Linked DNA regions of Homo sapiens: region 2 is linked to region 1. A link means that fine-mapping ties the variant in region 1 to the expression of a gene that starts in the linked region. Tissue or cell type: testis. Region 1 holds a variant in brackets; the other region holds the start of a gene. All regions are shown on one strand. Distances are from middle to middle.

Region 1 (8,102 bases):
GAAGAGTGGAATTGCTTTGTGCTCATCCCTTTGCTGGTACGGATAATAAAGTCTCACTCTCTTTCTATCACACCTCATTATTATTTTGGCTTCTTTCTACAAGTGGTGAGCAGCCTCACCCTTCTGCTGGTCACAAGTGCAGCAGAATGGAAGAGCACGTGTGGGCTGATGTGAGACCCACAGCTCACTGCTGAACAATGGCAGATGAGTGTGTGTGATCCAGACGCACAGATTATTCCTGAGGGAACGGCCAGCCTGGTGGGCTGGATAAAAGGCACTGTAAGAGAAGGGGACCACCCAACTTTCCCCATAAACGCCAAGTGGAGCACCCCCGATGAAGCAGCTGATGTGCTTCGTAAGCAAGCCATGTGGGACTGACTTTATGATGACCGGGATATTCACGGCTGAGTATGCCCAGATCATGGTAAATGCTGTGGTTAAGGGGGCCCATTGGCCTGGGCACCTCATTGGGTCTCAACTTCCCCTCATGGGTCATCCAGATGCTTATAAAAACTTTAGGCTAATTAATAAAATTATTGGGAAAGGCAAAAGGGAGTCCAAGGACTCATCCTAGGAAGGGGAAAATTTTTAAACGATTAGTTTTAAATAGGTAAAAAATGGGCCAGGCCTGGTGGCTCACGCCTGTAATCTCAGCACTTTGAGGGGCAGAGGTGGGCAGACCACCTGAGATCAGGAGTTCGAGACTGGCCTGGCCAACATGGCGAAACCTCATCTCTACTAAAAATACAAAAATTAGCCAGGTGTGGTGGCGCGCACCTGTAATCCCAGCTACTCAGGAGACTGAGGGAGGAGAATTGCAGTGAGTCAAGACTGCCACTGCACTCCAGCCTGGGTGGCAGAGTAAGACTCCATCTCAAAAAAAAGGTAAAAAGTGGATGGGGTGAAACCAAGAGGAAAAAGGAAAGGAGAGAGTCATGGGGTGCATCCTAGCGGGGTGGAATCTGTACATGGTTGTTAAGCAATGGAATGAATAATGGGGGGTTATTCACAAAGGTCTTAATACAACACTATCGAAAGTTGGGTGAACAAAGGGAGCCCCCGCTGGTCCCTCAACAGTAAAGAGCTCCAAAACAGTTTTTGCCAGATTGGAGAAGGCACTCTAACTATAAAAATTGGAAGGCAAAAGTTACACTGAGCAAACTGACCAACAATTGCGGGGGCCAATGTTGAGGTGGGTTAATCAAGATAAGATTGACAGAAGGGCCAGGGTCCCTTGGATCAAGCCCCTGTGGGGCACCCACATCCTTTTTCACAAGAGAGGGTAAAATGGTCTGGAGGTGGGAAAAAGAAGTTCCTGGGAGCAGAACAGAAAGACGTCGAGTTATGAAAGTCGACTTGTGTGATAGAGTTATGAAAGCCGAGATGTTTAAACAGGCTTTATGTAAGGCATTACATATCCTTTACCTAAATGCTTTATGAAAATGGATATTGAAGCTGGTACAGTGGTTCACACCTGTAATCCTAGCACTTTGGGAGGCCGAGGTGGGCGGATCACTTGGGGTTAGGAGTTCAAGACCACCCTGACCAACATGATGAAACCCCATCTATACTAAAAATACAAAAATTAGCCGGGCATGGTGGCATGCACCTGTAGTCCCAGCTATTGGGGAGGCTGAGGCAGGAGAATTGCTTGAACCCAAGAGGCAGAGGCTGCAGTGAGCCGAGATTGTGCCATTGCACTCCAGCCTGGGCAATAGAGACTCAGGAAAAAAAAAAAAAAGGAAAATGGAAAATGGATATTGTACGTGGACTGGGGAAACCCCTACCTACTACTGCAAAAGTAAAGGCATGAAAAAATCAACGAAAAGAGTCAAACTGTAAAATATTGGAAGAGATTTATTCTGAGCCAAATATGAGAGACTGTGGCCCATGACACGGCCTCAGGAGACCGTGAGAACAAGTGCCCAAGGTGTTTGGGCCACAACTTGGTTTTATAAATTTTAGGGAGCCATGAGACACCAATCAATACAGGGAAGACATACATTTGTTCGATCAGGAAAGGTGGGACAACTTGAAACAGGGACTTCCAGGTCATAGGTAGATTCAAAGATTTACTGATTGGCAATTGGTTGAAGGAGTTACTATCTAAAGACCTGGAATCAAAAGAAGGAATGTCTGGGTTAATGAGGGATTGTGGTGACCAAGTTCCTATTACACAGAGAAAGCCTCCAGGTAGCTTCAGAGAGAACAGATTGTAAATGTTTCTTACCAGAGTTGATTCTCTCTTGAATCAGGGAAAAGTCCTGAAAAAGGAAAAGGATTCTCTTCAGAATGCAGCTTTTCCCCACAAGAGAAAGCTTTGCAAGGCTATTTCAAGACATGGCAAAGAAACACAATTTGCGGTAAAATACTTCAATTTCATTCAGTGAATCCTTCGCTTGGCTTCCTACCCTTGAGGCTTTTAATAAGTTGAGTCCAAAATTCCCTAAAAAAGTTCCAGCAAAGCCAACTTAAAAAGAGCCGACCAGCTTAGGCAACATGCTGAGACCCTGTCTCTACAAAACATAAAAAATGAGCTGGGTGTGGTGGGGTGTGCCAAGGGTCCCAGCTACTCGGGAGGCTGAGGCAGGAGGAGTGTTTGAGCCTGAGAGGCTGAGGCTGCAGTGAGCTCTGATTGCACCATTGTACTCCAGCATGGCTGACAGAGCAAGCCCCTGTCACAGGGAAAAAAAAAAAAAAAAAAAGCCTCTAGGGCTGGTAACTATTCTTGCCACGCTTCATGCAAATAGGCCAAGTATAATGAGACCGAAATTTATTTTGCAAATAAACTGGTCCTACTATGATTTATCCTTGGTAGAAATGGGGAAACTAGAGAGAGAAAAATTTAGATCCTAGCTCTGACCGTTGTTTTTGAGTTATTATTTGCTTACAATTTGGGCTAATCCTGAATCATTCACTGGCTACAAGTCTCTAAAGAAAAACCGGGTTTTAGTTTCCTTCACGATGCTTTTAGTCGGCTTCTTAATGAAATAGGTTCTTTTTTGTTACTGTTCTGAAATACAAATTCCCTTTTGATTGTCATCCTTGTGTGCAAATTATTAATGTTATGTATCTCTTGTTGTTTTATTTTCTCTGAGAAAACAGAAGTCGTGGTATCCTGAAGACTAGAGATGATTCAACAGCCGGTGACCCTCCCTCACTGGGACTCTCACCGGGCCCGACCTGTTTTCCGACGCCAAGGCACCGCTGCTGAAGCCAGACAACCCCAAGCACCCTCCCTAAGGCTCAGGGACCATCGCGGAAGAGGAGGGCAGGTGAGACGGTCAGAGCTGGATTAGTGGGGCGGCGCGGGCGGATCATGGAGGCCGAAGCCGCTCCATCTTGGACGCTAGTTTGTCGTGTTGGCTTCTGATTAACCTCAGTTCCGGGAATGCCTCTGAGAGTTCCCGTTCATCTGTTGTTCCTTGTGTAAGAGCACATCCTTATCACAAGTCCTGGCCTTAGGGAAATTCCTGCCCACCCCCTCTGAGGCATGTCCCCTGCACTATGGCAATAGAAGCCCTGGGCCTGGGTGGTGACGGCGCAGGGAGCCGCCATCTTGACTCACCGTAGCCTGAGACTGACATGGCTTCTGTTTCTAAGTCCCTATTAAATGTTTCTTTTTAAGAACTGAATTTGTGGGCCAGGCGCGGTGGCTCACGCCTGTAATCTCAGCACTTTGGGAGACCGAGGTGGGCATTTCACGAGGTCAGGAGATCGAGACCATCCTGGCTAACCCGGTGAAACCCCGTCTCTACTAAAAATACAAAAAATTAGCCGGGCGTGGTGGCGGGCGCCTGTAGTTCCAGCTACTCGGGAGGCTGAGGCAGGAGAATGGCGTGAACCCGGGAAGCGGAGCTTGCAGTGAGCCGAGATGGCGCCACTGCACTCCAGCCTGGGCGACAGAGCAAGACTCTGCCTCAAAAGAAAAAAAAAAAAAAAGATGTGAATTTGTCAGCCTCTTTCTTTGGCCTGTCAGCTTCCTTGGACTTTGAGGTAGATGTGTTTGGACTTGTTCACTGTGAGACAGTGGCTGAATAGTGTTCTTCTGTATACACTTAAACATTCTGTTTATCCGTCATTTGTTGAGGGATATTTGGGTTGCTTCTACCATTTGGTACTTGTGAATATTGCTGCATATATTAGGCTGTTCTTTTGTTGCTGTAAAGAAATACCTGAGACTGGTATTTGTGTTTGTCTCGCAGTTCTGCAGGCTGGACAGTAAGCATGGCACTGGCATTGGCTTGCGGAGGCTTCTCAGGAGGCCTCGGAGAGCTTTTATTGATGGTGGAAGTGAGAGATGGCGCGTCCCATGATGGGAGCAGGAGGAACATAGTGGGGGGAGACGCCGCACACTTTTAAACAGCCACATCTCCCGGGAGCTCACTGTGAGAAAGCACTCATTAGCAAGGGGTGGCAGCAAGGCATCCGTGAAGGGTCCACCCCCATGATCCAGTCACTTCCCACCCCCTCCAACACTGGGGATCATTTCCACATGATATTTAGAGGAAAAAACATCCAAACCATATCAGCTGCTATGAACATTCATGGACAAGTTTTTGTTTGAATGCCTGTTTTCAGTCCCGTTGGGTATATACCTAGGAGTGCCCTTGCTGTGTTGCACAGGACTTGCACGTTTACTTTTATAAGAAACTGTTTCCAGTGGCTGCGGCATTTTA[T/C]ATTCCCACCAGCAGGGTCTGAGAGTTCCAATCTCCTCATCTTCTCACCAGCACTTGTTATTTTCTGTAGTTTTGACGATGACCATCCTAGTGGGTGTGAAGAGGTATCTATCTCATTGTGGTTTTGGTTTTCATTTTCCTCATGACTAGGACTTACAGCATTTGATACATGACACGTGCAGATGCACCTGATACGTGACACGCGTGGATGGACCTGACACGTGCAGATGCACCTGATATGTGACACGTGCAGATAGATGCACCTGATACATGACACGTGTGGATGCATCTGATATGTGACACGCGTGGATGCACCTCGGAAGCCTGGCACCAAAGGCCGCATGCTGTATGGTTCCATTCATATGAAATGTCCAGAACAGACAAGTCCAAGAGACAGAAAGTGGTTGCTTAGGGGCTGGGGGAGGAAAAAATGGGGAGTGACTGCTTAGTGGGGCATGGGGTTTCCATCTGGAGTGATGAGAAGGTTCTGGAACAAGATGGTGGTCATGGTCACACATTATAAGTGTACTTAATGCCACTGAATTGTACACTTTAAAATGATAAAAATGGTAAATTTTTAAAAATAATTTTACTTTAAGTTCAGGGATACAAGTGCAGAATGTGCAGGTTTGCTACATAGGTACACACATGCCATGGTGGTTTGCTGTTGGTTACATAGGAACGCGTGTGCCATGGCGGTTTGCTGGTTTGTTACATAGGTACATGTGTGCCGGGTGGTTTGCTGGTTTGTTACGTAGGTATACATGTGCCATGGTGGTTTGCTGGTTGGTTACATAGGTATACGTGTGCCATGGTGGTTTGCTGGTTGGTTACATAGGTATACGTGTGCCGGGTGGTTTGCTGGTTTGTTACGTAGGTATACATGTGCCATGGTGGTTTGCTGGTTGGTTACATAGGTACATGTGTGCCGGGTGGTTTGCTGGTTTGTTACGTAGGTATACATATGCCATGGTGGTTTGCTGGTTGGTTACATAGGTATGCGTGTGCCATGGTGGTTTGCTGGTTGGTTACATAGGTACACGTGTGCCATGGTGGTTTGCTGGTTGGTTACATAGGTATATGTGTGCCATGGTGGTTTACTGGTTGGTTACATAGGTACATGCGTGCCATGGTAGTTTACTGGTTTGTTACATAGGTACACATGTGCCATGGTCGTTTGCTGGTTGGTTACATAGGTACATGCGTGCCATGGTGGTTTGCTGGTTGGTTACCTAGGTACATGCGTGCCGTGGTGGTTTGCTGGTTTGTTACATAGGTACGCGTGTGCCATGGTGGTTTGCTGGTTGGTTACATAGGTACGCGTGTGCCATGGTGGTTCGCTGGTTGGTTACTTAGGTACGTGTGTGCCATGGTGGTTCGCTGGTTGGTTACATAGGTACATGTGTGCCATGGTGGTTCGCTGGTTGGTTACATAGGTATACATGTGCCATGGTGGTTTGCTGCACCTATTGACCCATCCTCTAAGTTCCCTCCTGTTGCTCCCCACCCCCCAACAGGCCCTGGTGTGGGTTGTTCCCCTCCCTGTGTCCTTGTGTTCTCACTGTTCAACTCCCACTTATGAGAGAGATTTGGCGTTTGGTTTTCTGTGTTATGTGCATTTTACCACAAAAAAAAAATGACAAAGGAAAAAACGTTTTTTGTGTGTCAGTACCTTTGTACTTTGACAAATAAAAAGTGCGGCCGGGCACAGTGGCTCATGCCTATAATCCCAGCACTTCTGTAGATCGAGGCAGGTGGATCACCTGAGGTCAAGAGTTCCAGACCAGCCTGGCCAACATGGGGAAATCCTGTCTCTACTGAAAATACAAAAGTTAGTCAGGCATGGTGGCATGCACCTGTAGTCCCAGCTACTCAGGAGGCTGAGGCAGGAGAATCACTTGAACCTGGGAGGCAGATGTTGCAGTGAGCCGAGATCATGCCACTGCACTCCAGCCTGGGCAACAGAGCGAGACTCTGTCTCCAAAAAAAAAAAAAAAAAAAAAAAAAAAAAAAAGTGCAACAGAAGAATATTCCAGAACTGCAAAAACGTTGCTTCCCTTGGCTTCCTGAATTCAGTGGGAGACAGTCTAACCTGATTTGTATAAGCAATGATTAAAACAAAATCCTGGCCTGGCCAGGCATGGTGGCTCATGTCTATAATCCCAGCACTTTGGAAGGCCATGGCAGGCAGATCACCTGAGGTCAGGAGTTGGAGACCAGCCTGGCCAACGTGGTGAAGCACATCTGTACAAAAAATACAAAAATTAGCCAGGTATCATGGCAGGCACCTGTAGTCCCAGCTATTTCATAGGCTGAGGCAGGAGAAATGCTTGAACCCAGGAGGCAGAGATTGTAGTGAGCCGAGATTGAGCCACTGCACTCCAGCCTGGGCGACAGAGCAAGACTCCATCTCAAAAAAAAAAAAAAAAAAAAAAATCCTGGATCCTGGCCTGGGCAGCTTATGTCACAAGTGAAAGACTCAAATGAGAACCCACCGTCCACCCCTGATTCCCGTATTTTAGCCAGAGCGCCCTAAGTCAAGCATAGGCAGGGTTCCACTGAAGGAGAACACTGTTGCATGCACGGATTCAGGGTGTAAATCTTCCTAGCCGTCTTCTTGCCAGGATGACTGTGTGTTGGAGGAGGAGAAATGACCATATTTTTCAGGATTTTCAGGATGACTGGACACCGATAATTCCTGGAGACTTAATATGACACTGTTCCTTCATTCCGGGGAGTGGGGGTGAGGGTAAGCCGGTCAGATGGCAAAGAATGTTTGAGATCAGCTCCAGCTTATAGTGGAACTATTAATAGCAAGCCCAGGAACCACCATGTGGCAAATATTCCATTTCAGAATCCATGCTTAGAACAGAAATGTTTGCCAGAAGCTTGGAAAATAAGGCACACAAAATCCAGGCGTCTTCCATCTCGGTGGGATCTCCGGGGTCCAGCGCCTGGGAGCATCTCCCGATTTCCCCCCAAGGGAAAGAGAATTGCTGTCCTGGTACCTCCCATCACTAAGAGAGGGGCACAGTGCCAGGCAGGGCGTTCTGGATTTTGGAGGCAGAATAGTCTTCAGCAGATAACTGTTCTCCTTTCAAGAAAAAAAAAGTCTGGCTTTCGACTGGGCTCAAGTGAAGGTTCACTACTTCCTAGAGGTGAAACTAGTAAGCCAGTGAACACTATGAATGTTCCATTTCAGAACACATGCTTAGAACAGACAACCTATACCATAAAGTACAGGTTGTCAAGGGACCTGGGCCTCCTGCCATGAGTGAGTGTCACCCAGCACTCATGCCCCAGATGTACATGGCTGCGCCCTGCTAGCCAGGAGGGGTGAGGCATGTGGCTCAGGCTTGTGCACGGCTGACACAGCTGCGCCCTGCTAGCCAGTAGGGGTGAGGCATGTGGCTCAGGCTCACG
Region 2 (8,102 bases), 68 kb after region 1:
GCTTCAAGCTAAAGGAATGACTCTGGAATGGTGGGATATCAGCCAGGCCATGGGAGGACTGGGGAGGGGCTGCAGCCTGCCCAGGCCCTCAGCACCCTCAGCACCCTCAGCACCCTCAGCTCTCGGAGCTGCATCTGTCCCCAGGCCACACCCTTCAGTGAGGTGAGGCAGGAAAAGGCCTGCCCTGGCCGGGCACGGTGGCTCATGACTGTAGTCCCAGCACTTTGGGAGGCCAAGGCGGGGGGATCACCTGAGGTCGGGAGTTGGAGACCAGCCTGACCAACATGGAGAAACCCTGTATCTATTAAAAATACAAAATTAGCCGGGCCTGGTGGGGCATGCCTGTAATCCCAGCTACTGGGGAGGCTGAGGCAGGAGAATCGCTTGAACCCAGGAGGTGGAGGTTGTGGTGAGCAGAGATCGCCCCATTGCACTCCAGCCTGGGCCACAAGAGCAAAACTCCATCTCAAAAAGATATTTAAAAAAAAAAAAGCCAGCCTGGAGCCCGCAGCTGTTTCCCAAAAGCAGCACCCAGCTCCCCTCCACAGCCCACCCAGCTCCCGCTTCGGGGGTCCCAAGGCCGGGGCAGGGTGAGGGCTGCCTGGGGAAAGAACTCAAACCCTGCTGCCCTTTCTGCCACAACCCTGGTTCCCTGGGTGGCCTCAGCGTCCCCTAAGTGAAAGGGCTCCGATGGCCTTGGTCCTGATGGCTTTGATGTTCAGGCTCCCAGCCAGCAGATGTTGGGGTGCGGAGCCTCCCTGCAGAAAGCCCCTGAGGCCCCGGGGCAGGGCCCTGCTCATCCCCCACCCCGCTCTCTCGCAGGTAAAGTGAGAGGGGAGAACAAGCTCTCCCTCCTCTCCTGCCAGAAGGACGTCGGATTCCCCCTGCTGAAACTTACAAGTGCCGTTGTGGACTCCCAGATCTCTTGCTGCAAGGGAGACCTCTGCAATGCGGTGGTCCTGGCAGCCAGCAGCCCCTGGGCCCTGTGCGTACAGCTCCTGCTCAGCCTGGGGTCAGTCTTCCTCTGGGCCCTGCTGTGAGGGCCTTTCCCGCCCTCTCCCCCGCAGGCCTACCCTCTGTCCCTGTGCGTCACCAGCTGCTTGGTTTTGAAGAGCTGCCTCACTGAATTGCAGGAATTCTGGTGTGGCTTTTCAGCCATGAGATCAGGGGAAGGATGTGGCCAGGGCAGAGGTCGGGGCTTCCCTGTCAGGGAACATATCCCTGCTTAAACTCCTTGTCCTCTGGGCCCAGGCCCTCCAGCCCATGCCCCCCAACAACACCACTTTTTTCAGAGCTGGGCCTCAGAGACCAGGCCCCACCACTGGCTGCTTGGGACCTAGGGTCATAGAGAAACCGTGGCCCAGGGCGGGAGTCCCCAGCTCCATCCAGCTTGCCACTAACTTGCCGAGGAGCCAGGGCCAACCCCTCAGCTCTCTGGGCTACCTGAATCCAAGCAAGGAGGGAACGTGGTCCCAGGGGGCCCTGCTGGCCTCCCACACAGGATGAGGGCCTCCCTCTCAAGGTCAACAAACAGCCCTTTGCTGACCCACTCAGCGTCAGCACTCGGCTTCTTCCTCACCATTCCTGAGGCCGCCCACCTGCCACTCTGACCTCAGGCCTCTGCAACATCCTGCTGGCACCATGGCCTTGGGGAGGTGCTCCTGGGGCACGGGTGCCCCCCCAGGGACCAGAACCCACAGAGTGCCAGGCTCATGGCTCTTCTGGCAGAACTCTTGCCATGTGGCTCCAGGGAACATCTGAGTAGGGTTGTCAGAGAGCCTCTGGATGGTCACCAAGAGGCAGAGCTCCTGCGGCCACCAGCCATCCTGTGGTGTGGGCCAGGCCTGTCATTTCTGTGCCCTGGCTAGGGCTCCCATGATGCCCCGTGTCAGGGGTTAGACTGGTCTCCCCTGGTGGTGGGAGAAAGGGGCTCCTTCAGGACTGCACTCTGGACAGAAAGTCAGGGCTGGGCTCAGAATGGTCTGGGTGGACGGTCATCTCAGCCTGGAGTCAGGGCTGGGCTGAGAACGCCCTGGGTGGACGGTCGTCTCAGCCTGGAGTCAGGGCTGGGCTGAGAACGCCCTGGGTGGACGGCCGTCTCAGCCTGGAGTCAGGGCTGGGCTGAGAACGCCCTGGGTGGACGGCCGTCTCAGCCTGGAGTCAGGGCTGGGCTGAGAACGCCCTGGGTGGACGGCCGTCTCAGCCTGGAGTCAGGGCTGGGCTGAGAACGCCCTGGGTGGACGGCCGTCTCAGCCTGGAGTCAGGGCTGGGCTGAGAACGCCCTGGGTGGACGGCCGTCTCAGCCTGGAGTCAGGGCTGGGCTCAGAACAGTCTGGGTGGACGGCTATTGTCAGGGACCCCAAACAGAGGGACCGGCTGAAGCCATGGAAGAAGAACATAAATTGTGAAGATTTCATGGACATTTATTAGTTCCCCAAATTAATACTTTTATAATTTCTTATGCCTGTCTTTACTGCAATCTCTGAACATAAATTGTGAAGATTTCATGGACACTTATCACTTCCCCAATCAATACCCTTGTGATTTCCTATGCCTGTCTTTAATCTTTTAATCCCATCATCTTCGTAAGCTGAGGAGGATGTATATTGCCTCAGGACCCTGTGATGATTGTGTTAACTGCACAAATTGTTTGCAGAGCATGTGTGTTTGAACAATATGAAATCTGGGTACCTTGAAAAAAGAACAGGGTAACAGCAACGTTCAGGGAACAAGAGAGATCACCTTAAACTCTGGTTGCCTGTGAGCCAGGTGAAACAGAGCCATATTTCTCTTCTTTCAAAAGCAAATAGGAGAAATATCGCTGAATTCTTTTTCTCAGCAAGGAACATCCCTGAGAAAGAGAATGTATCCCTAAGGGGAGGCCTCTGAAATGTCTGCTTTGGGGACGGCTGCCTTTTACAGTTGTAGATAAGGGATGAAATAAGCCCCAGTCTCCCGCAGTGCTCCCAGGCTTATTAGGATGAGGAAATTCCCGCCTAATAAATTTTGGTCAGACTGGTTGTCTGCTCTCAAACCCTGTCTCCTGATAAGATGTTATCAATGACAATGTGTGCCCAAAACTTCATTAGCAATTTTAATTTCGCCCCGGTCCCGTGGTCCTGTGATCTCGCCCTGCCTCCGTTTGCCTTGTGATATCTTATTACCTTGTGAAGCATGTGATCTCTGTGACCCACATCCTATTTGTACACTCCCTCCCCTTCTGAAAATCACTAATAAAAATTTGCTGGTTTTACGGCTCAGGGGGCATCACGGAACCTGCCGACATGTGATGTCTCCCCCGGACGCCCAGCTTTGAAATTTCTCTCTTTTGTACTCTGTCCCTTTATTTCTCAGACTGGCCGACACTTAGGGAAAATAGAAAAGAACCTACATGAAATATCGGGGGTGAATTTCCCCCGATAGATGACCATCTCAGCCTGGGGTCAGGGCAGGGCTCAGAATGGTCTGGGTGGACGGCCGTCTCAGCCTGGAGTCAGGGCAGGGCTCAAGGTCTGGGTGAATGGCCATCTCAGCCTGGAGTCAGGGCTGGGCTCAGACGACCAGCAGTCTTTGACCTGCCATGCCGGGAGCCACATCTCGTGACCAGGTCCTGGCCTTCCACGCTGGCCAGACGCCTGCATCCAAGACGTCCTGGTCCCTCTGACTGCACAGTGTGACAGCCACCACCCAGCCATGCCCTGTACTCCTGGATGTGATTTGCTAATTAGGGTCAATGGGGTAAGATGCCCAATTAAATATGAATTTCAGATAAACAATTTTTAGCATAAGTATGTCCCAAACATTGGTAAAAATGACTATTTGTTGTTTATCTGAGATTCAGATCAAACTGGGCATCTTGGACATTTTATTTGCTCAACTAGAAATTCATGAGTGCCTAAGGAGCTCAAGGGACATTCCAGACCCCCCAAATCTGTGTCGGACACAGGGGCAGTCACAATGGGGTGCAGTGGTTGTACCTGGTGACTCAGGACATTCGTCTACCTCCTCATGTCCCCCCTGCCTCTAGCACCACAGTGTCATGCCCTACCCTCCAGGGGGCCCAGAAAGCAGTGCTTTTGCCCAGGGCCATTGTCCCCTAGATAGAGGGTTCAGCCCAAGGAGGGCAGCCCTGATTCCCAAGCCTCCTGCAGCACTGACTCTCCACTGCAGCAGGCCTGGGGTTTCTGGCCATGGCTCGCCTTTGGCTCACCTCTCCAGAAGGTCTCTGGAAGCTTCTTCCCCACAGGGTCCTCCCTTCCACTGTAACCTTCCCTGGTTCTGGGAAACAAACTTGAGAGGCCCAGGCGCACCCCACCTCTTCTCTTTAGGTCTCCACAGCTTTTCCTCTGCCTCGTCCCCAAGGGGATCACTCTGGCCTTTCCCCTCTCCAGTGACCCTCTCCACACCCTCCCGGCTTCCCCCTTCCTCTGAGCACCCCAGATGCCAAAGGACAAGGTGAGGGAGCCTTTGGAGAAATGTTGCCTGACGTCACTGGTCCCCCACGCTCGGGGGACCCACACGGCCCGCCCTGCAGGCAGCCCCCTCCCCGCAGGCAGCCCCCTCCCCGCAGGCCGCCCCCTCCCCACCTCACCTCACAGCTGCAGGGGTCGGGGCTCGGAAGTGCTGGGGGCAGTTCAGGTTGAAGGCTGGGCAGCGTGCACTTCTCCCCCAGCCTCCTGGGGCCCGGGCATCACCGGAAGCGGAGTTTGTTCCCACTTTGTATCAGTCGCAAAGAAAGAGCACCCAATTGGACAAAAGGCAAGCAGGCTGCGTTCCTGGCCCGGAGTGGAGAAGAGTGAGCCCCTGCCCTGTCAGGGAAGCTGAGGCTGGGGGTTGTGAGGAGTCCCGTGCCGGGAGGAGGCTGCAGGAGCGCCTCAATGCACCTCTTGATACCACGCATGCTTAGCAAGGCCTGGGGACTGTCCTCTCGGGCAGGACTTCCGCCTTGTAATGACATGTCGCTGATTTAAAGGGAACTGGGGGTCACCAGCTCTGGTTTGTGCAAGTCTGGTGCGTTCTTATCTCCCTTGTATTTGGCAGGGGATCCTAAACCTCTCCTGGTATGTTGAGACATCTGGAGCTCATTAAGCCTCGGCGCCTGTAGATAAAGAGATTAAAGGAAAAAAGAAAAGAAATCCCGCCCTGGGGCAGCTGGGGTAGGATTAGCCTGGAGGCCACGCCTCTGCAGGGTCTCCCATAGGCTGGGCCAGCCTCTGCCCTCCCTGCTTCCAGAACCCCGGACGCTGATGGCCTGTGGCGGCCACTCTCCGCCCACCCCGGAGCCCAGCCTAGCGGGGAGAAGGCCGCCGGCCCGTTCGAATGTCCCTCTGCTTCCAGGGTCAGCCTGCACGCCACTCTCACAGAGGCCAGACGGGCGGTGGGGCGGGGACTCAGTTCATCCTCTGCCTGAGGAGCAGGTCTCGGGTGCGACTGAGCTTTTCACCCTTTGAGAGGAGTCAGGGACACGCAGCGTCTCCAGCAAGCTGGTGGCAGAAACTGATGGAGCATCCTAATCACAAAATAGGAAGAGAGTTTGCAAAATAGGAGCATTTACCAGAAGCCTCTCTCTCTCCCTCCCTCCCTCCCTCCCTCTCTCTCTCTCTCCCTCTCTCTCTCTCTCTCTCTCTCTCTCTCTCTCTCTCTCTCTCTCTCTCTCTCTCTCTCTCTCTCTCTCTCTCTCTCTCCCTCCCTCCCTCTCTCCCTCTCTCTCTCCCTCCCTCCCTCTCTCTCTCCCTCCCTCCCTCTCTCCCTCCCTCCCTCTCTCTCTCTCTGTGTGTCTCTCAAGTAGAAGTGGGGTCTCTATGTTGCCCAGGCTGCTCTCGAACTCCGAGGCTCAAGCGATCCTCCTGCCTCAGCCTCCCAAAGTGCTGCGATTACAGGTGTGAACTACTGGGCCCAGCCCCAGGCCCTCTTACAGGAGTGGGCTGCCTAGAAACATTCCAGTGCCATATCCCACTCCACTCCGGGTGCAGGGACAGGACCCCTGCCACCCCCAACCCAGGCCCAAAAGGAGGGGCCAGGAGGGGAGGGGCCACCAAGGCAGGTGAGCTGCTTAAGAGGAGCGAGGGCTGTGGACAGTCCTGCGGACTGCAGGAGGGGCCAGCAGGATCAATATCCAGCTTCTCTCTCCTGCTGGGCTCCTGCTGGGGCTCCCTGTTGGTCACCCCAAAACCTACTGTCTCTCATCGCTGCCGGGGCTGGCCAGGCTCAGCTGCTGGTTCTGCCTTGGGGCACCTCCTAGGTGGAGTCAGGGTGGCTGAAGGCTTCCCCACTCATGCGTCCACTGTCTGGACATCCTGCCCCTGCCCGACCTCCAGGAGTTGCAGTGTGTGAAGGCCACACCACAGCCCCTCTCTGCTGCCTCCCTCATGTCTCCTCCAGAATGATGCTCTTAACCCCCTCATTAGAGGCCCCCATCCTTCCCAACTGTACCTCTTGACACCCTGAGTACAGTTCAAGAGACCCTGAAGAAACTCAGAAAAGTGACAACTGGAGGCTCTGGGAGAGAAGAGTGAAGTCACTCACATTTGTTTTTATTTACTTATTTTTTTTTTAGAGATGAGGTCTTGCTTTGTTGGCCAAGCTGGTCTCTTGAACTCCTGGCCTCAAATGATCCTCCCATCTTGGTCTCCCAAAGTGTTGAGATTACAGGTGTGAGCCATTCTCTCCGGCTTACTCTGCGTTTTACAGGATGGGATGTGTTGATGAAAGAAAGCCAAACTCTAAAATATTTGAAGAGGTTTATTCTGAGCCAAATGTGAGGACCATGACCTCACATGACAGAGACTCAGGAGGTTCGGGGAACATGTGCCCAAGGTGGCCGGGGTACAGCTCGATTTTATACCCTTTAGGGAGAAAGAAGTTACAGGATGAGATGGTTTGGATTTGTGTCCCCGCCCAGATCTCATGTGGAATTGGCGGAGGGGCCACGTGGGAGGTGATTGGATCGTGGGGTCAGACCTCCCCCTTGCTGTTCTGGTGATAGTGAGTGAGTTCTCAGGAGATCTGATGGTTTGAAAGTGTGACGTGTCCCCCTTCGCTATTTCTCCCTTGGGCTCAAGGGATCCACCTGCCTCGGCTTCCCAAAGTGTTGGGATTACAGGTGTGAGCCACTGCGCCCGGCTGAAGACTCTGTTGATCCTGATTTTTTCCCCATTGCTATTATGGCTGTTTTTCTCCTCTTCTTTTCTTGACTGGTCTCCCACAAGAATTATCCACATTTTTAAGGCTGGGCGTGGTGGCTCACACCTGTAATTCCAGCACTTTGGGAGGTTGAGGCAGGTGGATAATTTTAGGTCAGGAGTTTGAGACCAGCCTGGCCAACATGGTGAAACCTCATCTCTACAAAAAATAACAAATATTAGCCGGGCATGGTGCACAAGCCTGTAATCCCAGCTACTTGGGAGGCTGAAACACAAGAATTGCTTGAACCTGGGAGGCGGAGGTTGCAGTCAGCTGAGATTGCACCACTGCACTCCAGCCCTGGCAACAGAGTGAGACCCTGTCTCAAAAAAAAAAAAAAAAAAAAAAAAAAGCAAGAGTTATCAAAGTTTTTAGTTTATCCAAAGAAATAACTAACTTGTGTATCCTAATATGTACATAATTTCCATATTATTAATTTCTGATGTCACTTTTATTCGTTTCTTTCTTCCGTTTTTTTGGATTCCATTTGCTGTTCTTCCTGTAATTTCTTGTGATGAATGCTTCATTCATTAATGTTGAATCTTTTTTTTTTTTTGAGATGGAGTCTCTCTCTTGTCACCCAGGCTGGAGTGCAATGGCGCGATCTCGGCTCACTGCAACCTCCCGGGTTCCAGCTGCCCTCCCGTCCAGCTGCCCTCCCGGGTTCCAGCGATTCTCCTGTCTCAGCCTCCCAAGTAGCCGGGATCACAGGTGTGTGCCACTAGGCCCAGCTAATTTTTGTATTTTTAGTAGAGACAGGGTTTCACCCTGTTGGCCAGGCTGGTCTCCAACTCCTGACCTCCGGCCTTGGCCTCCCAAAGTGCTGGCATTACAGGCATGAGCCACCGTGCCTAGCCTGAATGTGTTTTTAATGTATGAAGGTAAGGGCCAGTGGGAAATCTTCCCTTTTAACCCCTGAC

Direction of the effects. Positions count from the first base shown, and alleles are read on the strand shown. Sizes are in standard deviations (SD) of each study's normalised expression.
As copies of C replace T in region 1, the expression in testis of the gene that starts at base 4,952 in region 2 goes down (moderate effect, 0.59 SD a copy in GTEx).

What was found. PIP is the estimated chance that this variant, and not a neighbour inherited with it, causes the effect.
Region 2: it holds the start of LY6S-AS1, and the variant in region 1 is fine-mapped to the expression of LY6S-AS1 in testis (GTEx, PIP 0.92).

What each region holds. Positions count from the first base shown.
Region 1 is chr8:143,104,158-143,112,259 of GRCh38, reverse strand. No RefSeq gene overlaps it. Among named protein-coding and RNA genes, the nearest start is that of LY6L, 28 kb to the right of the region's middle. The variant T/C (reference allele first, on the strand shown) is at 4,680.
Region 2 is chr8:143,036,059-143,044,160 of GRCh38, reverse strand. LY6S-AS1 (LY6S antisense RNA 1) reads right to left here and starts at 4,952. Exons shown (of 6, transcript NR_149322.1): 1 at 4,592-4,952; 2 at 1,074-1,203; 3 at 899-998. LY6S (lymphocyte antigen 6 family member S) reads left to right here. Exons shown (of 4, transcript NM_001406478.1): 4 at 823-3,322. The coding sequence ends at 1,040. RefSeq lists enhancers at 980-1,555, 2,132-2,707, 4,729-5,280.